Linked DNA regions of Homo sapiens. The protein of the gene in region 1 binds, or shares a complex with, the protein of each later gene. Each region holds a gene or a part of one and is shown in the gene's direction. Other genes may lie near its edges.

Region 1 (7,410 bases):
GTGCCTGTAGTATCAGCTACTCGGGAGCATGAGGCAGGAGGACTGTTTGAGCCCAGGAAGTCGAGGTTGCAGTGAGCCATGATCGTGCCACTGCACTCCCTGGATAATGGGAAGGCCAAGACACCATTGTCCACTGCAGTATGGCAGCTAGAGCTCAATGAGTTTAAAAGTGAGCTCATTGTCCTCCCCTCCAAATGTCCTCTCCTCTCCCAATTTCTGCCATAGTTTCTTAAGGGCCCCATCTTTCTCTACCAGTCACCCAAACTCAAAACTCTTTCACTCAAGTCCTAATGATTCTTTCTTCAAAACATTTCTCACATCTACAGACAATATGAAAATAAAAGTGGCACAGGTAACCTGTAAGTAGTAACTTACAGCTTTCATTGGTGCTTACTTCTTAGGAGAGGGGGAAAGACAGACAATAAACAAATAAACAGGTGCATATAGGGATGTCAGATGGTGATACTTAACCTGGAGAACGAACAGGATAAGGGGGAAGAGATGAAGAAGAATCAGGGTGAGGGATGGGGATGTTATGGGGGGTGTCCATCTGAGACATGGTGTTGGGGGGTGAGCAGACATCCTGGGCAGTAGGTGTTCTTTTTTTTTTTTTTTTCTTTTTTTCTTTTTTAAGAGATGGGGACTTGCTATGTTGCCTGGGCTGGTCTTGAACTCCTGGGCTCAAGCGATCCTCCCACTTCAACCTCCCAAAGTGCTAGGATTACAGGCGTGAGCCCCTGTGCTTGGCCAAGGCAGTAGGTGTTCGTTCAGCAATTGCATCAGAAATCATTAAAGTCCTGGACTTGGGATTTTCGTTTTCCTGGGTTAGTGCTATTAGTTATTTATTGAACATTTTTTACAGCGTGCAGGCTTCTCATTCATCCTGAGGACTCTTGTTTTACAGCTGAGGAAGCCCAAGCTCTGGAGGATTAAATGACCAGCCCAGAGACCCCCAGCAAGGATTTGAACCCAAGTGGGGCTGTGCAAAGCTAGTACTTTTAGCCATTGTACTATGAAAGCAATATAAATTACTGATCTCTGATTGCCCTATAGATTTTTCTGAAACAGTTATTTATTTGTCTATCTATCTTTTGAAACAGAGTCTCATTCTGTTGCCCAGGCCGGAGTACAGTGATGCAAACTTGGCTTACTGCAACCTCCGCCTCCTAGGTTCAAGAGATTCTCATGCCTCAGCCTCCTGAGTAACTGGGGTTAACCTGAGTAACAGGTGCGTACCACCATGCCTGGCATTCTCTCGTATTTTTATTAGAGACGGGGTTTCGCCATGTTGGCCAGGCTTGTCTTGAACTCCTGACCTCAGATGATCCACCTCCCTCGGCCTCCCACAGTGCTGTGATTACAGGTGTGAGCTACCATGCCTGGCCTGAAATAGTCTTTTAACTAAACTTTTTACTTTGTAATAATTGTAGATTTATAGAAAAGTTGCAAAGATAGTACAGAGAGTTCCCGTATGCCCTCCATTCTGCTCCCCCTAATGTTAACATCTTAGATAACCTTGATGTGTTTGTCAAAACCACAAAATTAGGCCCGGCACGGTGGCTCCTGTCTGTATTCCCAGCACTGGGAGGCTAAGGTGGGAGGATTGCTTGAGCCTAGGAGTTCAAGATCAGTCTGGGCAACATAGTGGAGCTCATCTCTATAAAAAGTTAAAAAATTAGCTAGGCATCGAGCACCTATAGTCCTAGCTACTTGAGAGGCTGAGACAGGAGGATCACTTGAGCCCAGTAGGTCGAGGCTGGAGTGAGCCATGGTCACACTATTGCACTCCAGCCAGGGTAACAGAGCGCCTACAAAATTAATGTTGGTACAATGCTATTAACTAAACTTTAGACTAGATTTGGATTTGGATTTGGATTTCTCCAGTTCCACTAATGTCCTTTTTCCACTCCAGAACCCAATCCAGAATACAACATTACATTTAGTGAAACAGTTTTTTAAATTGTATTTCAAAGTTATATTTCACCCACCAATTTTTAAAATCAGTACTTAAAAATGGCCAGGCGTGGTGGCTCAGGCCTGTAATCCCAGCACTTTGGGAGGCAAAGGCAGGTGGATTGAGAACAGCCTGGCAAACATGGCAAAACCCTGTCTCTACTAAAAATACAAAGATTAGCCAGGCGTGGTGGTGTGCACCTGTAGTCCCAGCTGCTCAGGAGGCTGAGGCAGGAGAATCACTTGAACCCAGGAGGCAGAGGTTGCAGTGAGCCGAGATCATGGCACTGCACTGCAGCCTGGGCGACAGAGCAAGACTCTGTCTCAAAACAAATAAACAAACAAACCAAAAAACTTTAAAATCAGTGAAAATGTGCCATTCCTAGTCCTGTTAGTCTTACACTGCATTCTGCCCTGTCCCTGTCCTGCTCAGACATAGGCTGAGGCCTGTGGTTCCGTCGCCCAGGCTGCTTGTCAGTTGGTTTCCTGCTGGTTTTGGCCAAGGGCAGTAGAAAGAAACCAGGGTATTTCTCCTCCCCCACCGCCACCCTTCTTTAATCTGCATTTCCGGCAATGTCTCTAGCTCCTCTGGGAACTGATGGCTGTGGTTCAAACTTCCCCTGGGTGACCCTGGGCCCCAGGCTCACCATCTCTTCATGTGGTGGCTTCCTGCCATTGACAATTGCGGGATGGCTTTGTCTTCCCCTGGTTGGCCTCTCAACTCTCCCATCACTGATGTAACCAGTCTCTGGTTTTAAATCCTTAGAATGCTGTCTGTATGCCTGGCTGGTCCCCGCCTGACACATGTGCCTGAGATGCCTCCACACTTGGTCTTCCTGCCCTTGTGGCCCTAACACCCTCACAAAGCTGAAAACTGCTTCCAGTGAAAGGTTCTGTGTAAAAGCGACAGAGGACCTAAGATGAACTCTTGATGTCAACAGTTGTGGTTTCTGCAGCCACACTAACCACACAGATGTCAGCACAGCTGCACTCACACCTACTTCTTCATTTTGCAGGATGGCCAGAGACAATAAAAGCACGAGACCCAAGTAGTCTACCGAAGTCTCCATCTCTGTGGACCTACAGAGGCACAGAGGGCTGCTCACAAGATGGCTTTAGACATTCTCGCCATGGCCCCTTTGTATCAGGCCCCTGCCATCAACAGAATAGGGCCAAAGACAGACCCATCTAAAAGGCCAGCTGATCCACTAAAACCCTTGGTTCTCTCTAGGACCAAACTCACCACCATTGAGGCCAAAAGGATCATGTCCATCCTGGATGAGGCGATCTACAAGGTGGAGCTGGTGACCTTGCTGTCGTATGTGGCATCCAACAGAGAGGATATGGAGGGGATGCTGGGGGAGGACGTCATGAGGGCAGTGAGAGAGCATGAGGATCTCTGCCAGGTCCTCCTTGAAAACGTCAGGTGCCTGAAAGAGAAAGAAAGGCAATTGCAGGAGCAGAAAGAGGCTGAGGAGGAAGGGTGGCTCAGAGACCGCCTCCTTTCCATAGAGCTGCAGAAATCCAGCCTCTCACCACTTATGCAGCAGATCAAAGACTCCACCAAGAACGTCCTTAGACTCTTGCTCAGCAACCCCCAGGCTGCTAGGCTCCTGCAGATGCAGACACAGGGTAGAAGTGCAGAAGCCCAGAATTTTATTGACAGCCTGATAGAGCTCCGTGGTTTCCTGTTTGAAAAACTACTCACTAGTCCCATGGAAGCGAGGGATAAGGCCCAGTTCTTACAGGATATCAGTAGACAGAATAGTAATAACCAACAAATCATTGATACTCTTGAAAAGGAATTGGCGGAGAGAATGAAGAACAGGAATGCAGAGGTATTGTTTCATAGTATTGCTGAAATTACTGAAGAAGCCACACAAATCTTTTGTTGGTTGGGTTTTTCCTCAATGATTGATTTTTTTTTTAAGATGGAGTCTCGCTCTGTTGTCCAGACTAGAGTGCAGTGGTGTAATCTCGACTCACTGCAACCTCTGCCTCCCAGGTTCAAGCGATTCTCCCACCACAGCCTCCCAAGTAGTTGGGATTACAGGCGTATGCCACCACGCCCGGCTAATTTTTGTATTTTTAGTAGAGACAGGTTTTCGCCATGTTGGCCAGGCTGGTCTAGAACTCCTGACCTCAAGTGATCCTCCTGCTTTGGCCTCCCAAAGTGCTGGCCACTGCGCCTGGCCAATTGATTGACTGATTTTTTTGAGACAGGGTCTCACTCTGTTGCCCAGGCTAGAGTGCAGTGGCATGATCACAGCACACTGCAGCCTCCATCTCTCAGGCTTAAGCAATCCTCCCATCTCACCCTCCCAAGTAGCTGAGACTACAGGTGTGTGTCACCATGCCTGGCTAATTTTTTGATTGTTTGTAAAGATGGGCTCTTGCTACGTTGCCCAGGTTGGTCTCGAACTTCTGGGTTCAAGAGATCCTTCCGCCTTGGCCTCCCAAAGTGCTGGGGTTACAGGCATGAGCCACTATGCCCGGCCTCCCCAGTGATTTTTTTTTTTTTAAGATGGAGTCTTGCTGTGTCACCCAGGCTAAAGTGCAGTGGCAACATCTTGATTCACTGCAACCTCCGCCTCCTGTGTTGGGAATGGGTGCTCGGTGTCGCCAAAATCAACACTGAGACAAAGGATCTCTCAGCAAGGCTAGTTTACTCTCTGCAGAAAGGGTGCTGCTTGCTAGCAGTCTTGCCACAAGAGCACACATGAACAAAAGAGACGGGGTCATTTATAACCTGACGCATCCACCCTACTGCTGTGTCCAGTTTCCATTGGCTGGAACAGGACCTCACATTCTGTACTCAACCCGATTGGCTAGCAATTTAGAACTTCCCAAAAGAGGCAAAGGCAGAGGGAAACAAAGGAAGAGAGCAAGTAACTCCTGGAATGCTGAGAGAGGCAAAAACACCTCCAAATAAGGAAGAGGAATAGGCTATGACCTAATGCTTGCTTGGACCGGTTCAGGTATGCCAAGGCAAATATCTAAGCTAAAATGTGGGAGCTAAGAACAGAGTATATTGATTTCTTTTTTTTTTTTTTTTTTGAGGCGGAGTCTTGCTCTGTCACCCAGGCTGGAGTGCAGTGGTGTGATATCAGCTCACTGCAAGCTCCGCCTCCAGGGTCACACCATTCTCCTGCCTCAGCCTCCCGAGTAGCTGGGACTACAGGTGCCCACCACCATACCCAGCTAATTTTTTTTTTGTATTTTTAGTAGAGATGGGGTTTCACCGTGTTAGCCAGGATAGTCTCGATCTCCTGACCTCGTGATCCGCCCACCTCTGCCCCCCAAAGTGCTGGGATTACAGGCGTGAGTCACCACGCCCGGCCTATTGATTTCTTTTTTTTTTTTTTTTTTTTTTGAGACGGAGTCTCGCTCTGTCGCCCAGGCCGGAAGCCGGACTGCGGACTGCAGTGGCGCAATCTCGGCTCACTGCAAGCTCCGCTTCCCGGGTTCACGCCATTCTCCTGCCTCAGCCTCCCGAGTAGCTGGGACTACAGGCGCCCGCCACCGCGCCCGGCTAATTTTTTGTATTTTTAGTAGAGACGGGGTTTCACCTTGTTAGCCAGGATGGTCTCGATCTCCTGACCTCATGATCCACCCGCCTCGGCCTCCCAAAGTGCTGGGATTACTGGCATGAGCCACCGCGCCCGGCCTGATTTCTTTATTACAGCTAGCAGAATTGAAGAATATTAACACAGGTCTTCGAGTAAATTTTGGTTCTAAGAGAGGTTACTACCTATTCTGAATTAGACTGGGAGGAAAGTCCCTTTGAAGAGGAACCTCTATTTCATTTTCTACATCCTGGGTTCAAGCAATTCTTCTGGCTCAGCCTCCCGAGTCTCTGGGACTACAGGTGCCCGCCACAATGCCCAGCTAATTTTTTTATTTTTAGTAGAGATGGGGTTTCACCGTGTTGGCCAGGCTGGTCTTGAACTCCTGACCCTAAGTGATCTGCCCGCCTTGGCCTCCCAAAGTGCTGGGATTATAGGCGTGAGCCACTGCGCCTGGCCTAAGTAGCTTTTTTTTTTTAAAAAAAAATTCATTTACTCCACAAATTATTGTAAGTACTTACTAGGTGCCAGGTCTTATAAATAAGCCCATGTGGTTCCAGCCTCATGGAGTTCACAGTAAGGAAGGTAGGAATTAAAGAATTCATTTAATTACAGTTTTGAGAAGTACAATGTACTTCTCAAAGGGAGTGTTACAGGAGAACTTAACACCAAAAGGTCAGGGACATTGAAGCCAAGATATGAAGAATGCGAGGGCGTGAACCAGGCAAGTGCAGTGAGGAAGAACCTTCCAAGCTAGGGATCAGCGAACTATTTTTTTTTTTTTGAGACAGTCTTACTCTATGCCCAAGCTGGAGTATAATGGCATGATCTCAGCTTACTGCAGCCTTCACCTCCCAGGTTCAAGTGATTCTTGTGCCTCAGCCTCCTGAGTAGCTGGGATTACAGGCATGTGCCACCACGCCTGGCTAATTTTTGTATCTTTTAGTAGAGACAGAGTTTTGCCATTTTGGCCAGGCTGTTCTTGAATTCCTGGTCTCAAGTGATCCTCCCACCTCCCACCTCAGCCTCCCAAAGTGCTGGAATTACATGTGTGAGCCACCGCACCTGGCCCCAACTTTTTCTACAAAGGGCCAGATAGTAAAAACATTAGGCTTTGTGGGCCAGATGGTCTGTTGCAATTACTCAACTCAGCTTTGCTGTTATAGGGGAAAAGCAGCCACAAACAATATGTAAATGAATGGGCTGTGTTCCAACAAAACTTTACTTACAAATACAAGTGGCTGGCTGGATTCGGCCTGTGGGCCATAGTTTGCCAACCCCTGTTCCAGGTGGAGGGTAGAGTGCACCTCAGTAATGAGACAAGAATAAGCCTGGCTAGTTCAGAAACCCAGAGAATGCCAGTGAGCTAGAGGGAAGGGACAAAGATGGGCTGGGAAAGCAGGGGAAGGAGACAGATCACACAGGGCCTTTGAGGCCTAATCAAGGAATTTGGTTTCTAGAAGTTTTTAGTTTTAGAGACAAGATCTTGCTCTGTCACCCAGGCTTGAGTGCATTGGCACGTTCATAGCTCACTGCGGCCTTGACCTCCTGGGCGATTCTCCTGCCTTAGCCTTTTGAGTAGCTGAAACTACAGGCATGCGCCACCACTCTTGGCTAATTTTTTACATTTTTGTAGAGACAGGGTCTCGCTATGTTGCCCAGGCTGGTTTCGAACTCCTGGGCTCAAGCAATCTCCCTGCCTCAGCCTCCCAAGTAGCTGTGACTACAGGCACATGCCACCATGCCTGCCTAATTAATTTTTTTTCTTTTTTTAGAGATGGGGTGTCTGGCTGGAAGTAGTGGCTCACACCTATAATCCCAGCACTTTGGGAAGCCAAGGCAGATGGATCACTTGAGGTCAAGAGTTCAAGACCAGCCTGGGCAACAGGGT
Region 2 (7,410 bases), on another chromosome or scaffold:
TAGTTAACTGGGCTGAGTAGTCTGGGTGCCAACCACTGTGCTAGGTGTGTATCCTTGTAGTCCGTGGACAGCAGCCTGGACATCACTGGCTGCCACCGACCTAATAATGAATCAGTCTTCATTTTAACATGTTTGTAGGTGATTTGTATGTACATTAACTTTCGAGAAGGCCGGGCGCGGTGGCTCACGCCTGCAATCCCAGCACTTTGGGAGGCTGAGGCGGGCGGATCACGAGGTCAAGAGATCGAGACCATCCTGGCCAACATGGTGAACCCCGTCTCTACTAAAAATACAAAAATTAGCTGGGCGTGGTGGCACGCCCTGTAGTCCCAGCTACTCAGGAGGCTGAGACAGGAGAATTGCTTGAACCGGGGAGGCGGAGGCTGCAGTGAGCCAAGATCACACCACTGCACTCCAGCCTGGCGACAGAGTAAGACTCCGTCTCAAAAAAAAAAAAAAACAAAAACAAAAAACAAAGTTCGAGAAGCACTCATGTGCTGTATCTCATTTATTGTTAACAGTTTTATGGATTAACTAATTGCAGTTTGTGAAGGGTATTATGAAATAAAGGCATTTTGTTAGAGGATAAACTAAGTAGAGACTCATTTTGGTGGTAAGATCTTTTTATGGAAATAGTCTATTACTATATTTGATTGTCAGCTACTGTATTTTGAATTTTCAGAAATTACGTCTAACCAATTAATCAGAATTGATTAAGTTTTGAGGATTCACTCAACTAAACTCATAAAAGACTGATGTGCAAACCTGAATGATTTATTAATTTAAATAAGGGTATATACATTGACTTGAAGGCTGATTTTGCCAATATACTAATATAATAATTTTGGCAATATACTAATATAATAATATACTGTTTTATGGGTACTAAGCTTCGGGTAGTGTGAATTTGTATTTCAGAAGTCATTTGATGACCGTGGAATCACACAAAAGAAAGGATAATTTTGAAGGATGTGTTCAGTACCCTCTAAGTTCCAAAAGATCTGGGACCATTTCTGATCTGTTAATACTGAGTGTTGTGCAGAGTGCTTGGAACGTGGTAGGTAATCAATAAATATTTGTTGAATTCAGAACATTTGAATTAATCAAAGACAGCTTATGAGATTTTAACCAAAGCATTCCTAGCTATTTTCCCCAAACTTATTCTATACCTAAAAGTACACAAAACTCGTTTTAGGTCTCTTTTCCCCTCTGCTTTACCGGTAAGATACATTCTTCTATTCCATCTGGCTCAACAAAACGTTTTATTTCACAGTGCCACGGTATTCACTAGCATGTCTTTAAAAAACAACTACAAAAAACCTCATTGTAGAAATACACATATGTTTTAAATAGTTCATCCTTAATATTGAGATTTCTAAAAGTTCTAAAGGGGGAATAAGTTTCAGGGTACCTATCCTATCCACTCTTCTTCAATATTTAGAGATTAACTTTGATAGAAGTATTGAGAATATTGATAAGAAAAATTACCTAAATTAGAAGGGGCTATTGTGCTCATAAAATTTTTTTCTAAGATTATGTACGTTGAAGTTGTTATACTTATTTGTAGCATTTTTTGCTTTCATACAGTATAATTTATTTTTTCATAGATTAAAAATTATACAGAATTATATTAGCTAAAAGTTTAACCTTTAGAACCAAATTATTTTTAAAACCACTTTTTTAACTGAAAGAAGAATGTTTGAAACGGGATGAGAAAAAATATTTTTGAAGGTTTATTATTTTTCCAAAGTTTCCTCAGCCAGAACATTTTTTGTTTTGTTCTTTCTTTTCCTTCTGTTTTGTCTGTTTAAATGGAGAGTCAATGCAATTGTTGATTCTTTGGCTCCTTAAATCTTATTGTTTCTGTCTCTTAGAGAATTTTATATAGGACTGGAAGGATCTTCTGTTTGTAATTAGACTCACGTCTAGGAAACAAACTGCTTAGTTATAAAATTTGAACTTTTGGCAGCCAGTGAGCTTTGGAAAGTAAGAACTTTTTAGTAAGCTGCAGATATTAAAAGCTCACTCTAGGATTTACTATTTTTGTTTCTATTAAAATATTCTTTGTTACTTTGCGTGCTTTGATAACATTGCTTGATAAAGTGCCTCTAATTCAATTATCACCTCCTAAATGGAAGAGGTTTTACAAGGTTTGTTGTTTTGTTTCTGATTTCCTTCATTGTGCCACTCTTTTGAAAACCCAACATTTGGAAATATAAAGTAAAAAACAGAAATTTCAGGTGCCTATTACTTTATAAAAAGGGTTCCCTTAAATAACGTCTTTGTTTTTTTTTTCTTCTTTTATTTTGAGACAGGGTCTTGCTCTGCTGCCCAGGCTGGAATGTGGTGGTGCAACCTCTGTTGCCTAAGCTGGAATGTAGTGGTGCCATCACGGCTCACTACAGCCTCGACCTCCTGGGCTCAAGCGATTCCCCCGACCTCAGCCTCCCAAGTAGCTGGGACTACAGGCGCAAGCCACCATGCCCGACTAATTTTTTTAATTTGTAGAGACAGGGTTTCACTGTGTTGGCTACGCTGGTCTCAAACTCTTTATTTTTTTTATTTTTATTTTTTTTTTGAGATGGAGTCTCGCTCTGTCGCCCAGGCTGGAGTGCAGTGGCACGATCTTGGCTCACTGCAAGCTCTGCCTCCCAGGTTCACACCATTCTCCTGCCTCAGCCTCCCGAGTAGCTGGGACTACAGGTGCCTGCCACCACGCCCGGCTAATTTTTTGTATTTTTAGTAGTGATGGGGTTTCACCGTATTAGCCAGGATGGTCTCGATCTCCTGACCTTGTGATCCGCCCACCTCGGCCTCCCAAAGTGCTGGGATTACAGGCGTGAGCCACCACGCCTGGCTCGAACTCTTGAGCTCAAGTGATCTGCCTGCCTTGGCCTCCCAAAGTGCTGAGATTACAGGCATGAGCCACCCTGCCTGGCCTCATAGTAACTGTCGATAGTATAGAGTGTAGCCTGTGGGACAGTACAAAGGTTGAGCTTTGAAGTAAGACTTGAATTTGAATTCCGTCTTCCCCAAGCTCTAATTATCTGATCTTAGCCGAGATGCTAAACATAAGTAGCTTCAAGTTCCTCAGATGTAAAGTGGGGATAATTATACCCCCAATATTTCATAATGTTGTAATGGGGACAATGTTTTCTTATTCATTTTTACATCCCCAGCACCTGCCACAGTGCCTGGCATCAAAGGAATGCTGAGGCCGGCTCACGCCTGTAATCCTAGCACTTTGAGAGGCCCAGGCAGGTGGATCACTTGAGGTCAGGAGTTCAAAACCAGCCTGGCCAACATGGTGAAACCCTGTCTCTACTAAAAATACAAAAAATTAGCTGAGTGTGGTGGCGCGTGCCTGTAATCCCAACTACTCAGGAGGCTGAGGCAGGAGAATCGCTTGAACCCAGGAGGTGGAGGTTGCAGTGAGCTGAGATCACACTACTGCACTCCAGCCTGAGTAACAGGGTGAGACTCTGTCTCAAAATAAATAAATAAATAAATAAAAAATACAATAAAGGAATGCTGAATAAATGGGAAAGAAAGTGTTTGGTACGTATCTAGTGAATTAGTAAGTATTAGTATCTGCTTAACATAAAACATAAGAGTTGGCCAGGCGTGGTGGCTCCTGCTTGTAATTCCAGCACTTTGGGAGGCCGAGGTGGGGAGATCACCTGAGGTCAGGAGTTCGAGACCAGCCTGACCAACATGGTGAAACGCTCTCTCTACGAAAAATACAAAAATTAGTTGGGTGTGGTGGTGGTTGCCTGTTATCCCAGCTACTCTAGAGGTTGAGGCAGGAGAATTGCTTGAACCTGGGGGATGGAGGTTGCAGTGAGCCTAGATCGCAGCATTGCACTCCAGCCCAGGCAACAGAGCAAGACTCCATCTCAAAACAAAAAAACAAATAAAACATAAGAGTTAAGAAAACTTTTAAGTCTTACCAATTGGGATCATGCATAATGCATTCCTGCATATTTCTGGGGTAATTTAATAAGTTTTCTTCCTGTTTTAGACCAATATAAATATCCGGTTAAGACTAAGCAAACAAGAAGACTAGCTTTTTGAAGCCTAATTTGTTTCCTCTTATTCAGAATAAAAAAAAATTTGAAGAAAAACTGGACTGAAATTTGTTTTTGCTCTGATATATAAAATTTACAGAAATGTCTCAAGAATAGTCATAATTTTAAAGATCAAATGGACAGTGAGATACTACCTCACGCCTGTTAGGAAGGCTATTATCACCAGAAGTCCCCCAAATAATAAGTATTGGTGAGGATGTGGAGAAACTGGAACCCTCGTGGACTGTTGGTGGCAATGAGAAATGGTGCAGCTACTATGGAAAGTGGTATGGCGGTTCCTCAGAAAGTTAAAAGTTGAGTTACCATGTGACCCAGCAGTTCCACGTGTGGGTATATATCCACAGTAATTGAAAGCAAGGCCTCGAAGAGATATTTGCACAACCATGTTCATAGCACATTGTTCACAGTAGGTAAAAGGTGGAAGCAAGCCAAGTGTCCATCAGCGGATGAATGAACAAACCAAATGTGGTATATACGTGTAGTGAAATATTATTCAGCCTTCAAAGGAGGAAATTCTGACACATGCTACCGCTTGAATGAACCTGAAAGACATCATGCTAAGTGAAATAAGCCAGTCAAAAAGACAAATACTCTGTGATTCCACTTACATGAGGTACCTAGAGAAGTCAAATTCATGGAGACAGAAAGTAGATTGCTGGTTGCCAGGGGCTGTGGGGAGAGGAGAATGGGAAGTTGTTTAAGGAGTGTAGAGTTCCAGTTCTGCAAGATGAAGGAAGTTCTGGAGATTGGTTGCCCAGCAGTGTGAAGGTACTTAACACTATTGAACTATATGGTTAAAAGTGGTTAATACAGTAAGTTTTACATTATGTGTATTTTACCACATTTTAGTAAATAGAAAATGTTGAGTACATTCAGAATGAAAGAAATGGTACATTGTTTTTCAAAGGCAATTTGGAAATTTGTATTGAAGAATAAATGATGATGGCTAGGCAAGGTGGCTCACATCTGTAAACTCAGCACTTTGGGAGGCTGAGGTAGGAGGATTACTTGAGACCAGGAGTTCGAGACCAGCCTGGGCAACATGCTGAGACCTCATCTTTGCTAAAAATAAAATAAATAATAATAAAGAAGTCGGGGGTTCCCTCTGTTGGCTTTGGAGCCCCCATCCCTCTGTCTCTGTACAGGGAAGCTTCTTCCTTCTCCTTTCTTGCTCCTTCTTGCCTGTTAAACTCTCTATTTCTTAAAACCAAAAAAATAAAAAATAATAATAAAAAGTGATGTCCACATGCTTTGAGCTTTAATATACTTCTGGATATTTATCCTTAGAAATATATTCTGAAAAGAATAAAAAATGCTCTAAGCACAAAAATGATCAACATAAAGTTATCTATAAATTTGAAAATATAGATAACATTTGCATGTCCAACTAATGGGGCATACAAAATAAATGGTTGTATGTCCACTTGTTGGGTTGCAGCCAAATATATAAAAATTATATGTGTAAATGGGTAAGGACACGTGGGGGAGCCCAGGAGATGATGATGATAGCAGGGTGATTAGACTTTTAGGGGCACTTATTTTTAAAATCTCATTTTAATGTCAGTTCTACAAAACTTTAAAAACCCACTTAAATATGCTAATTAAAAATTATTCTTACCCACTTGTGAAAGTGTGTTTACCAGATCCTGTACTTGACAATCCTTTGTAAACCTCTAGTATGGATTTTATAGATATTAAGACTGTAAAAAAGTAATTTTAGTTTTTATTTTTATTTTTTAAGAGATGAGATCTAGGCCGGGCGCAGTGGCTCACGCCTGTAATCTCAGCACTTTGGGAGGCTGAGGCTGGCGGATCGCCTGAGGTTGGAAATTCAAGACCAGCCTGGCCAACACGGGAAAACCCCGTCTCTATTAAAAATACAAAATTAGCTGGGCATGGTGGCGCATGCCTGTTATCCCAGCTACTCGGGAGGCTGAGGTAGGAGAATCACTTGAACCCGGGAGGCGGAGGTTGTGATGAGCTGAGAGCACCATTTTACTCCAGCCTAGGCAACAAGAGCGGAACTCCGTCTCAAAAAAAAAAAAAAAAGAGACGAGGTCTCACTCTGTCACCCTGGCTGGGGTGCAGTGGCTTGATCACAGCTCACTGTAGCCTCTACTTTCTGGGCTCAAGTGATCTTCCCACTTTGGCCTCCCAAGTAGCTGGGACTGCAGGGGCGTGCCACTGTGCCCAACTAACATTTTTATTTTTGGTAGAGATAAGATCTTGCTCTGTTGCCCAGGCTAGTCTCAAACTCCTGGCCTCAGGCAATCCTACCACCTTGGCCTCCCAAAGTGCTGGGATTACAGGCTTGAGCCACCACCTCTGGCCCATAATTTTATTTTTTTAAATGCACTAGTAAAATTGGGAGTTTAAAAACCTGGACTAGAATTTGGACATTGCCTTTTTTTTTATTCTTTTTAAGATTTTGCTTGTTAGTGTCAATTTATCTGACCTTTGGTTTGAAGAATTTCCATCTAAAGAGGAAGATAGGCAGCTAAGGAGACAATGATACAATAATGTGATAAGTGCTATGATAGTTGCACATGTATGATGATTGGGTGCCTGGGGAGAGTCACCTGATTCACACACACCCTCTTTAAATTATAGCCCCTTTTTATTCCCTCTCATAGCTATTTGTTTTTTTCCTCTTTCATACTATATTTTGTAATTGCCTGTAGATGTGTTGTTTGATGTCTGCTTCTCCTAGACTCTTAACTTCCAAAAGGATAGGGGTCATGCTCATGCATATACCCAGAGCATGGCATATAGCTCAGTATTTGCTGAATGTTGAATCAAAGTTGGCTTTCTGAAGGAGATAACCGAAGCTTATCTTTTTTTTTTTTTTTTTTTTTTTTTTTTTTGAGACGTAGTCTTGCTCTTGTCGCCCAGGTTGGAATGCAGTGGCGTGATCTCGGCTCACTGCAACCTCTGCCTCCTGGGTTCAAGCGATTCTTATGTCTCAGCCTCCCAAGTAGCTGGGATTACAGACATGTGCCACCATGCTGGGCTCATTTTTTTATATTTTTAGTAGACGGGGTTTCACCATACTGGCCAGTCTGGTCTCGAACTCCTGACCTCAAATGATCCGCCTGCCTTGGCCTCCCAAAGTACTAGGATTACAGGTGTGAGCCACTGCGCCTGGCCTAATTTTTGTATTTTTAGTAGAGACGGGGTTTCACCATGTTGGCCAGGCTGGTCTGGAACTCCTGACCTCATGTGATCCGCCCACCTTGGCCTCCCAAAGTGTTGGTATTACAGGTGTGAGCCACGACTCCCAGCCCCAGGCTTATCTTGAAGGTGTAATAGCACAGAGAACAAG

Evidence for each region. The genes of interacting proteins can lie anywhere in the genome.
Region 2: DRC10 (region 1) and DRC8 share a complex: the UniProt entries of both Homo sapiens proteins name them as parts of the nexin-dynein regulatory complex.

Annotation. Positions count from the first base shown.
Region 1 is NC_000012.12:113,203,819-113,211,228, reverse strand, and holds part of DRC10 (dynein regulatory complex protein 10), read left to right. Parts: intron 1-1,100; exon of another isoform or gene 1,101-1,228; intron 1,229-2,719; exon of another isoform or gene 2,720-2,969; 5' UTR 2,970-3,062; coding exon 3,063-3,791; intron 3,792-7,410. UniProt on the Homo sapiens protein: Component of the nexin-dynein regulatory complex (N-DRC), a key regulator of ciliary/flagellar motility which maintains the alignment and integrity of the distal axoneme and regulates microtubule sliding in motile axonemes.
Region 2 is NC_000001.11:244,972,371-244,979,780, forward strand, and holds part of DRC8 (dynein regulatory complex protein 8), read left to right. Parts: intron 1-138; exon of another isoform or gene 139-928; coding exon of another isoform or gene 929-1,057; intron 1,058-7,410. UniProt on the Homo sapiens protein: Component of the nexin-dynein regulatory complex (N-DRC), a key regulator of ciliary/flagellar motility which maintains the alignment and integrity of the distal axoneme and regulates microtubule sliding in motile axonemes.